2 linked regions of the Homo sapiens genome follow. The protein of the gene in region 2 interacts with the protein of the main gene of each other region in a pairwise test. Each region holds a gene or a part of one and is shown on either strand. Other genes may lie near its edges.

The links. The genes of interacting proteins can lie anywhere in the genome.
Region 1: the proteins of ZNF474 (region 2) and PFKFB1 interact in binary tests that used the Homo sapiens proteins (3 or more experiments, as listed by UniProt).

What each region holds. Positions count from the first base shown.
Region 1 is NC_000023.11:54,932,461-54,936,228, reverse strand, and holds the end of PFKFB1 (6-phosphofructo-2-kinase/fructose-2,6-bisphosphatase 1), read left to right. Parts: exon of another isoform or gene 1-1,212; intron 1,213-1,219; coding exon 1,220-1,282; intron 1,283-2,343; coding exon 2,344-2,408; intron 2,409-2,766; coding exon 2,767-2,826; 3' UTR 2,827-3,268; downstream 3,269-3,768. UniProt on the Homo sapiens protein: Synthesis and degradation of fructose 2,6-bisphosphate.
Region 2 is NC_000005.10:122,125,329-122,132,545, forward strand, and holds the start of ZNF474 (zinc finger protein 474), read left to right. Parts: upstream 1-4,217; 5' UTR 4,218-4,355; exon of another isoform or gene 4,356-4,513; intron 4,514-7,217.

The DNA.
Region 1 (3,768 bases), on a different chromosome or scaffold from region 2:
GAGAGAAGAGCCCGGGCCAAGGTCATTAGTGGAGGCAGTGGCAGAGCTGGGTCAGAGATCTCAGGCAAGTCACTTCCCTTCTCCGAGTCTGTTTCCTCAAGTGTACAAGGAGGGTGTACAGTAGTACCTCAATCTAGCTTTAAGGGTGTCATGAGGTAGTGGGCAAAACACCCTTGGCCCAGGGCCTGATGATGACAAAAACAAGGAGGAGCAGCAGGATGGATGCCCAGGAAGGAAAAAAGCCAACCTAATGTCTCAGGAGGCTGGGAGGGCAGTGGCAGACCTCAGAAACCTAGGGTGGAACCTGCTGTTGAGGGAAGCCATGAGGGTCGGTGATCCTGCAAAATGAAGGGAAATGGGTAGCGTTATGTGCAGGTGGGCAGGAAAGTGGGTGTCAGGAGAGAGTGCCTAGCAGGTGGGTTTATCACCCCCAGGACACTGCAAGCCCCTGGATGGCAGGGGCAGTTGACAGTAGGGGCCAGTGCATGCATTCTGGCCTCACAGGGTCCCAGGTTCAAGGCCTTGCTCTGCTGCTTCCTGGCTGTGTGACTTGCGGAGAGCATTTTCCCTCTCAAGGCCTCAGTTGGCTGAGACCATGAAATGGGCTTACTGTCCCCACCTCTTGGGCTTGCCTGAGAAATGGAAACATAGACCCAGACAAGAATGCATATGAATATTCAGAACAACTTTATGCATAATGTCAATAACTGGAAACAAGTGAATGCACAAATGCTTGTCCATCACCAGGCCTGAGGCAGGGATGATCAGAGGGAGCGGGCCAGGCTGGGAGAAGGCTGTGGGAGCTGTCCACTGCCACAGCAGGGTCTCAAAAAACACTTGCTGACGTGAACTGTGGGCCTTTGTGGTGTGGGGTCTGCTGAAGGCCCCAGGCTTGGGGCGGGAGAGAAGCCTGCCTGGGTCTCATTTGTCCTGTGAGTGAGGTGGTGGCCGTCTCCAGGGTGGCCGGCCCAACCCTCCTGCAGGACACCCAGTCCAGTCTACCACCATTTTCCAAGGCATTCCTGCCTCCCTGCTCTCCTCCTCTCTTCCCAGGTGCTCTCAGTGCTGCCCCTGCAGGGTGTGGGGAGTGGGCCCCTGGTGAGGCCCCACCACGGCAAGGGGACATGGAATGGGGAGCATCCAGCAAGCCTGGGGGCCTGGGGAGGCTGTGTCCTGGCCAGCACCCTGCCTCTGAGGGCTGCTTCCTGTTCCTTTCTAGATGAGCTTCCATATCTCAAGTGCCCTCTGCACACAGTGCTCAAACTCACTCCTGTGGCTTATGGTAAGTACTCCCACCCTGATCAAAGGACAGGCATATAGAGGCTATGAGCATGGCCCTAGTGCCTACCATTTGCCCAGAAGAGTCCTGCAGGAGGTTTCCTGGGTGGGTGTCCTGCAGGAGGTTCCCTTAGTGGGTGGTGGGGGTGGGACTGATGGTAGTAGGATAACAGGGAAAGAGTAGGATGGTTTCTAAATCTGGGGCTGGCTCTGACTCTGTGTCTTTGCCAGAGCACCCAGCACAGAGCACCAAGCTGTGGAAGGGGGATTCCCCAAAGGGGACCAGAGGAAAATTATAGGTTAGGGCCGTATTGGAGAAAGAGCACAAAGACCAGCCTGGGCAGTTTAGGGTCTTTCTTGGGACATTAGCTATGAAAGGTTCATGAACAGGGGAGGGACAGAATCAAATCTATTCTGGGGTGCGAACAGGGCAGATGACCTACTGAAGCCTGGAGTAAGGTGCAGTCCACAGGGATGAAGCTAAGGGAGCTTCCACAGGCATTAGGCCCCCTCTGTCAGCCCCAAGCCCCAATGATGCACCCTCATCCGTCTTCAGGTTTCCTAAAACTCCCAGGTGAACTTCCATACTCCTGGTGTTGCCACAACCACATTGTCCTCCAGATAAACTTTGCCTGGCACTGATCGCCCAAGGCAGTGGCCCCAGGACTCTTCCACCTCTTCACCACCTAACACGGCTTGGAGGATCCGCAGAGCTACATCAATATTACATAGATGAGACTGCTGTCCTGCGGACCTCAAGAGCTGTGGGCAGCCAGAGTTCATCTCTCATCTCCATCCCCATTTACAAATGAGCACCTGAAGCTCAGCGAACTAAGACTGTTAGGGGCAGAGGTGACAGGATACCCTGTTGGCTGCCTCTTAGGCCTGGTGTCTTCCCCACACATCACATAGCTGTCTAAATTCTCCTCCATACAGGCGAGTCATGATCTGTACACAGTATGAAGCTGGGGGTGTGGCTGGTGATGGGGGAGGGGAGGTGATACCTCAGGGAAGACCTGTGCCTACCTTGGGGGCCTATGGACAGATGGATTGTTCTTTTCTAAGGCTGCAAAGTGGAATCCATCTACCTGAATGTGGAGGCCGTGAACACACACCGGGAGAAGCCTGAGGTAGGTGGGGGACTCCATGGCCCAAGCTGGCTGTGGACACAGCACATGGTGAAAGCACCTTATCCACAGAAAGGCTGCCCCAACCCCACCAAGCCTGGGTGTTTTGCACCAACAGATGGAGCAAACAGCACCCAGAAATGCAGAAACCACAACCCAGACACGAGGCACCATGGAGATGCAAGGCTGGGGCAATTCCCGCCTAAAAGGCCTCAGGCTGAGATTCCCCCAGGCCTACCTGAGGGTCAGGATCCGGGCCTGGCTGAAAGAGGGGAGCCTGGCAATGAAGACAAGAGGCAGGGGAGAGGTTGGGGCCCTGCACTGCTGTCTCCTTCCTATTAATCCTGCGCTCTCTCCTCAGAATGTGGACATCACCCGGGAACCTGAGGAAGCCCTGGATACTGTCCCAGCCCACTACTGAGCCCTTTCCAAGAAGTCAAACTGCCTGTGTCCTCATCGCCTTCCACCTTTAGGAAATGCTATCTTTGCTCTTCTCCTACTCTGCCTTGGCCTCACTGAGGCACCCCACTTCCAGTGAAGAAGTCCTCCGCAACTCCCAAACAAGCCTCGCTTGCTGGCCGCAACCAAGGAGCTATCTAGCTCTGGAGGAAACTTTCTTTCTTAATTCCTATTCTCTGACGAATAAAGACTTACTGCCTACAAGAGGAGAGGAGGAGGTCATGGCGAGGCTTTTCCAGTTGTTCTCAAGGTACTGACCCTAATCCTGACCCAGCTCTGCTGCTGTGAGGGCATGGAATGGGTGAGGATTTCCTGGAGGGAAAAGTTCTACAGTAGCACCTCCAAAGATGGGGGAGAAGATAGGTGCCTGTGAGTTCCTGTGGGCCTTGTTCCAGCAAGGTGGCTGTGGGCATGACACTTTCATCCTTATACTCAGGGAAGAATCTGGCACTTGAGCCAAGTGCTCCTTTCTTCTCCAACTCTTGCTGCCATCCTGAGTGATTTCACTGTTTATGTGAATGATCCAACCAATACTCTGGCCTCACAGTCCCCTGACCCCCTCAACTCCAGTGATCATCTTCTCCCCTTCAACCACCTACTCCATGGATTTTGGTATCATCTCCCTGGTCTGACTTCTTAAACGTAAGCATCCAACTGTCTGACCACTGCCCACCCACTACCCCAGTCCTTACAACTCTCTGTCATCCACTGAATCCCTAGCAGTGTGCCTCCATACAGTAGGCATATATGTAGTATTTTCTTCTTTTTTTTTGAGACAGGGTCTCACTCTGTCACCCAGGCTGAAGTGCAGTGGTGCAATCTCAGCTCACTGCAGCCTCAAACTCCTGGGCTTAAGCAATCCTCCCACCTCAGCCTCTCTCACAAGGAGCTGGGACCACAGGTG
Region 2 (7,217 bases):
TTGCACTATTTTAAATGTAGACATTTTACAGTTCAGTCTAGTACAGTATATAAAACTCAGTTTATACAAAGCCTGTTCTTGTGACAAAAGGCGTATTTGAAAAATGACTCTCTCTTTTGAGGTCAGACTCATAATAAAAACATTGCCAGGACAGATAGAAGGATTTCTGTCTTTTGATCTCCCTTCCTATGGACAGGGAATGTTTCTTCAGTGTTATATATAATGTTTCTTCAGTGTTTCTTCAAGCCTCCTGTTTCGGAGACATGAAGGTCTAGGTTTTAAATGTTTACTCAGTCTGGGCAAGTCATAGAAAATATTATTTATTGGGTATGGGAATATGGCAGCAAGATCTAGCAGAAGGCAGCGAAGGGAAGCCATTTGGGCACCAGAAAGATACACATGTCCATCCCAGATTTGCTTTGGAATAGCCTTGTCAATGGGGCAAGTTGCTTAATGCTCTTGAGCCTCAGTTTTCTAATCTGTCAAACAAGGATACTAATGCCTACCTTGTAGGATGGTTAAAAGATTTGAGATAACGGATGTCAGGTGGCTGGAACTTGCTGTTTCGGAGTTAGGCGATAAGAATGAAGTAAACAATAATTAGGTAGACAAGAACAAGGCACTCAGTGCACCTATTTTGCCAGACTTCACAAACATCCTGTTTGGATCCCTGCTGCTGCCATTGCAATTTTTTTTTCTCACAGAATGTAGTCTCTGCCAAGTTTAAATAAACTCCAAAGGATTATTGGTAGCTTGCAAAGTAAGATTTGGGCTTTGCATCAGTGAAGAGTCTTGAGGATAGGCAGAGATACCAACAAGGAGAAGCATTTCTCCTGCTCCATGAAAATGTGATTCATTCCTTCAATGAAAAAGTCAGGGGCTTGTGCAGGCACAACAGCTGTGGTTTTATGAAGGGAAAATAATCCAGAATTCCTTGTGGTGGGGCTGCTCCCACAAGGGGTCAGATCTGGATTATTGCTGGAGGCTGGCATCATCCCACAGTGACACAAGCATGATTGGATATCACATAACTTGAAATAACTGGCAATTGTTTTAGGTGAGAAAAGCTCAAGCAAGAGCAAACCAGACCAGCTCAAGTAAAGGCTTCAGTGTCTTTGATCTGGGTCTGACTTGAATGCCTGGAGTCAGAACAGAAGAAGGAACACGGTTATCTTTGAAGCTCACACTGGTTGCTGGTTGCCCACTCAACAGATGTGAGCAGTTTAGTTGTCACCATAAATCAAGGGCTCCCCCACAATGTTATAAATAGGGATGGGTAAATATTTTGGATTCATCAACCTCCAAGTATGCCTCAGATGTTTTGGGTTCAACTAAACAGAATACATCATGCAAAACACATACCCTCCTTGATTTTTTAGGACCGTATGTGATTTATGGAAAATAGAATCCATATGTTTCTGCTTCATTTACACTTAAATCTTCAAAAGGTTGTGTGTTGTAAGAGCTTTTTGATGTCGAAGATGCCTCTGCGCATGCTTAAAAAAAAAAAAAAATACGAGCAGCTTAAAAGTTTTGGTCGCTCGGAAAGACCAGAGAGACACAGAGACAGGGAGAAGGAGACAGAGACAGAGCACCCAGGAACGCCTGTTTTGCCAAGATGAAATACATTTGAACACCAGGAAGTTCAATTCTGACTGAAACTATAAACCCATGAATTAAAAATGAGTCCAGAATTTGGGAAGAAACAAAGGCTCCACTCCAGCCAGTTTTAGAAGCAGCTTCGATGAATACAGAAAAGCAGCTGGCAACTCAGCCACAGCACCAGGGAAGAGACGGCCGTGAGTGCACCATCAGCTACAGCTAACAAAGCCTGCAAGCTCTGTTATTCTTGGGCCTCCTAAGAGTTGCTCCAGCCAGGATAGAGACTCTGCCCTGCTTTAGCTCAGAAATATCCACTCTCGTGATGTTTTCCTGAGGTTGTCCTGTCATAGGCCAACACTTCCTGTCTCTTCTGCCATCTGGCCCAAATAGCCAGCCACTGGACTGAATATTGGGTGTGCATTTGGGATGATGTTTATTTATTGGGCACTTTCTTTAGAGAAAGATCACATTTAGTTCACAATAAGGCCGATAAAACATGCAGTTTGTGTAAAGTGAAAAGTGTGTTAACTAGGGGCCTACAGGTCAGTAAAAGGCAACAGGTAAAACAGGGTTTTCTTGCCGCCATCTCAACATTTACTCACTGATATTATATCAGCTCTATGTCATTGTATGCATGTATTATTATTTGTATATGTATCGTATGATTTCAGAAGCATCTTAATTAGAAATATTTTATATCATAAATTAGATATCTAGAATAGTTAGAGCGTTATTGCAAGTTAGGATGTGAAACGTTACTGTCCCTTGGGATCTCTAGACTGTGTGGCCTGAAGAGTCACTTCAGCAGAATTAAGAGTCCTGTGAATTACCTCCATATCCCAATTACATTATCTGGGGACAAGGAGCAGGGCTGGGGAATATTAGAGGTCAAGTTTTTGTTCTTTTTTTTTTTTTTTTTGCTAACCAGTAAGGAACATTCAGTAAAAATGTTCCTTAATCTCACCACTCATAGGTAGCCACTGTTAACACTGGGATGTATATTCTTTGAGTTAATTGTGTGTTTGTGTGCACATGAGCACACACAAAGAATTTGATGAGATTATACTATTTATTCTGTTTTGTAGCTTCTCTTTTTCATTTAGCAATATATTGTAAACTTTTTCCCAGGTCAATAAACTGTTGCCTCATAAGCTTTAATGCTTGCAGAATATTTAATTGTAGAATTGTACTACAATTATCTTAATATCTCAGAGTATTTTGAAATACGAATCTTGAAAACACTGCTTCAGATATATTTTTAAATACTGGCCTTAGTTTTTAAAATATTTTCTATGTTTTAGGACATGTTAGAAAAATAGATTAAGCATAGCTTCTACATCTTGTGGTTGCTTGCCTTTTAGACCAAAACATAGAACATGCTTTGAGAGCCATGGAGACTATCCATCTTCCCTGTTTTAGAGGAGACCAAGCTCTTCTTCTTCTTCTTTTTTTTTTTTTTTTTTTTTTTTTTTGAGATGGAGTTTCGCTCTTGTTGCTCAGGCTGGAGTGCAACGGCGCTATCTTGGCTCACTGCAACCTACACCTCTCGAGTTCAAGCGATTATCCTGCCTCAGCCTCCCAAGTAGCTCGGATTACAGGTGTGTGCCACCATGCCCGGCTAATTTTTGTATTGTTAGTACAGACTGGGTTTCACCATGTTGACCACGCTGGTCTTGAACTCCTGACCTCAGGTGATCCACCCGCCTCAGCTTCCCAAAGTGTTGGGATTACAGGTGTGAGCCACTGCGACTGGCCCAAGCTCTTCTATATAGATGGTATTAGTATTAGTCAGGGTTCTCTAGAGGGACAGAACTAATAGAATAGATGTGTATATGATGGGAAGTTTATTAAAATGTATTGACTCACATGATCACAGGGTAAAGTTCCACAATAGGCCATCTGCAAGCTGAGGAGTAGGGAAGCCCAAAACCTCAAAAGTAGGGAAGCCGACAGTGCAGCCTTCAGTCTGTGTCCAAAGGCCTGAGAGCCCCTGGCAAACCACTGGTGTAAGTCCGAGAGTCCAAAAGCTGAAGACCTGGAGTCCAATGCTCTAAGGCAGGAAGCATCCAGCATGGGAGAAAGCTGAAGACCAGAAGACTCAGCAAGTCAAGTCCTTCCACATTTTCCTGCTTTATTCTGGCCACACTGGCAGCTGATTAGATGGTGCCCACCCAGATTGAGGGTGGGTCTGCCTTTCCCAGTCCACTGACTGGAATGTTAATCTCCTTTGGCAACACCCTCACAGACACACCCAGGAACAATACTTTGCATCCTTCAATCCAATCAAGTTGACACTCAATATTAACCGTTACAGTATTTTTTAAAGTCCCTAGAAAAGATCAATAAGATAATCAGTAAATATTGTTTTCTTTTCTTCTTTAAAATAAAACGCTGTGTTTCTACATCAAGAAGAGCCTGTGACTTAAATTTATCTGTCCCTGTTGGTTGCTCAGTCCATCGGTAAAGTTCCTGGAGTCAATTTAAAAGAAAGCTGAAATCCATACCTACTTTGCTCTGTTTCCCATCAGTTACTAGAGAACTCAGTCCCGTCCCTTTTGTTGACAGGTTGCCAGGATACATCCAGGCAACAAAGACTGCGGTTCCTGTTACTCAGCAGCCTCAAAAACTCACACCAGCTCCTGCAAGGAATGTGAATCTTGGAGCTCCCAGCTATTCTGTTCCTGTTTCTGTCAGCTCCTTCCCTGAAAACTCAGAGGTGCTCAGCATGCCATGCTAAAAGGCAAAATAAAAAGGTAAAGAACAAATGTCACAAGGTGAGGCTCTCGCAGGGTGTGTGCATTCTCTGTTGTCTGGTAGGTCTTAAACCTTTCAACTAATAACAACTGCTTCTCTTAGATATTCTTGTTCTCTTCCATTGGCTTCTCACCAGTATTCAGTAAATATTTCCTTGCTATTGGGAAGAAATACAAATGACGATAATAATAATAATTAGTTCTTAAGTGAAAAATCTCAAGTATTACTAAACAAAACAATAAATGTCATTTTACTTCTTTGGATGCTGACAATGATGAGTGAACTATGGATTAGATGTTCTAATACCTAAAAAATAATAAAATTGTATTTAAAAGAATGATTTTTAAAATAACTTTCTTCAAAGAAAAGTAGATGAAGTCAGGTTTTAACATTAATTCAGAACTATATGTTTATTAGCCAGATTATCCATGAAAGAAAAGGGGTATTAAAGGCTATAATTACTCAGTTGTCTTGGCTTTTTTTTTAATTATTTGAGATAAAATCAACATGGAGTAAATTGTAACCAATCTTGAGTTCTTAAATTCAAGTTTCTAAAATCAATGAGTTTAACAGGTATATACAACCATGTCATGGTCACCTCAGTCAGGGCACGGGACATTTATTTCACCCTGGAATGTTTCCTCACATCCTTTCCAGCCAATCTTCCCTCCACAGGGGGCCACTGTTTTGATTTCTGTCCTCAAAGAATAGTTGGCCATTCATGAACTTTATATGAATAGAATGATACCATATATATTATATTGTCAGACTGACGTCTCTGGCTCAGCAGAATGTTTTTTCAAGCATTTCAATGTGGGTTTTTAAGTCAGTAGTACAATTCTTTTTAAAGGTAAGTATAATTGCATTATATGCTTATTTTACATTTGTTTATTACATTGATTGGTAGTTTGTTTGTTTCTAGTTTGGTCCTCTTATAGCTAAAGCAGCTATAAAGATTCTTCCACAAAGTATTTTTCTCCTAATTTTATTTTTTATGTCTAACTTTTTTCCAGCTTTATTGAGGTATGACTGACAAATAAAAATCACATGTATTTGGGGTTTCTCATGAAATGTGTTGACATATGTAGACATTGTGAAATGATTACCACAATCAAGCTAATTGAAGTATTCATCATATCACATAGTTACCTTTTTTTGGCTGTGGTGAGAATGCTTGAGATCTACTATCTTAACACATTTCAATTATTATTAATTATAATAATTCTTAATTATAATCACAATGCTGTACATTAGGTTTCTAGCATTTACTCATCTTATAGCTGAAGGTTTGTACCCTTTGCCTATCTTCCCTTCGTCTCATCCTCCACTCATGGTAACCATTATTGCACTCAACAGGTAGGTATATGAAGATGCTCACCATCACTAATCATTAGGGAAATGCAAATAAAAATCACAAGGAGATATTACCATACATTTGTGAGAATGGCTGTTAAAAAGATAAAAGATAACAAGTGTTGGTGAGAATGTGGAGAAATGGGAACCCTTATACACTGTTTGTGGGATTGTAATTTAATACAGCCATTATGGATTATGGAAAACAATATGGAAGTTCCTCAAAAAGTTAAAAGGAGAACTACCATCTGATCTAGCAATCCCACTGCTGGGTATATATCCAAAGAAAATGAAATTAGTATATTAAAGAGATATCTACACTTCCTTGTTCATTGCAGCATTATTAACAATGGTCCATATGTGGTAACAAATTATCTATCAACAGATAAATGGATAAAGAAAATGTGGTATAAACATACAATAGAATATTATTGAACCTTAAAAAAGAAGAAAATACTGCTATTTTCAACAACATGGGTGAAACTTGAGGACATTATACTAAGTGAAATAAGCCAGATAAGGAAAGACAAACACTATGTGATCTCACTTATATGTGGGGAAAAAAAAAGAAGCCTGCACAAGTCTTATTAGATATATGTTTTTATTTATTCTGGATTCGGACCCAGGAGTGAAACTAATGAGTGATAGGGTAGATATTTGTAATAAATATGGAATAATATGTCACAGTGGTCATAATTTGCATATTCCTGATGACTAATGGAGTACTTTTCATGAACTTCTTGGAGATTTGTATCTTTTTAAAAATTATCTATTCATACCTTTTACCCATTTAACATTTTTTCTTTTTAATGTCTTTTTCATTGATGTATAACTCACATATAATAAAATGCACCCATTTTAAGTACAAAATTTGATGAGTTTTGACAAATGATTATATCCATGAACCAACAAAGACGTAAATATAAGAAAACGTCCATTAACCTTTGTAGTCAATTTTCCTTTCATGCACCTACCCACCAAACAATAACTGATATACTTTCTGTCACTACAGATTAGCTTTGCTTATTCATAGAAATGGAATAATTAAGTACCTATACTTCTTTAGCATTTGACTTTTTCGGCAGCACATTATTCAAAGGGATCCATGTAGTGTATATTAGTAGTTTGTTCATTTGTATTGTGAAACAATATTCTATTGTATGAATATGCTATAATTTTGTATTCATTTATCCATTGATGTATATTTATGTTATTTCCAGTTTTTCACTACTATGAGTAAAGCTACTGTAAACATTTGTAAATGACTTTTTGTGGACATATACTTTCATTTTTTTAGGTAATTATTTAAAATGTCAATACCATTGGGTATTTTAGAATTTAACTTTATAAAGTTAAATTTTTAGATAATCCAATTTTTAAATATATGTCTTGCAAACAGTTCTTCCCAATCTATGTCTTGCCTTTTAATTTTCTTAATTTTTTTAATGTGCAGAAGTTTATAATTAAGAGAAAGTATAATTTATTATGTTTTCTTTTATACTTAGTTC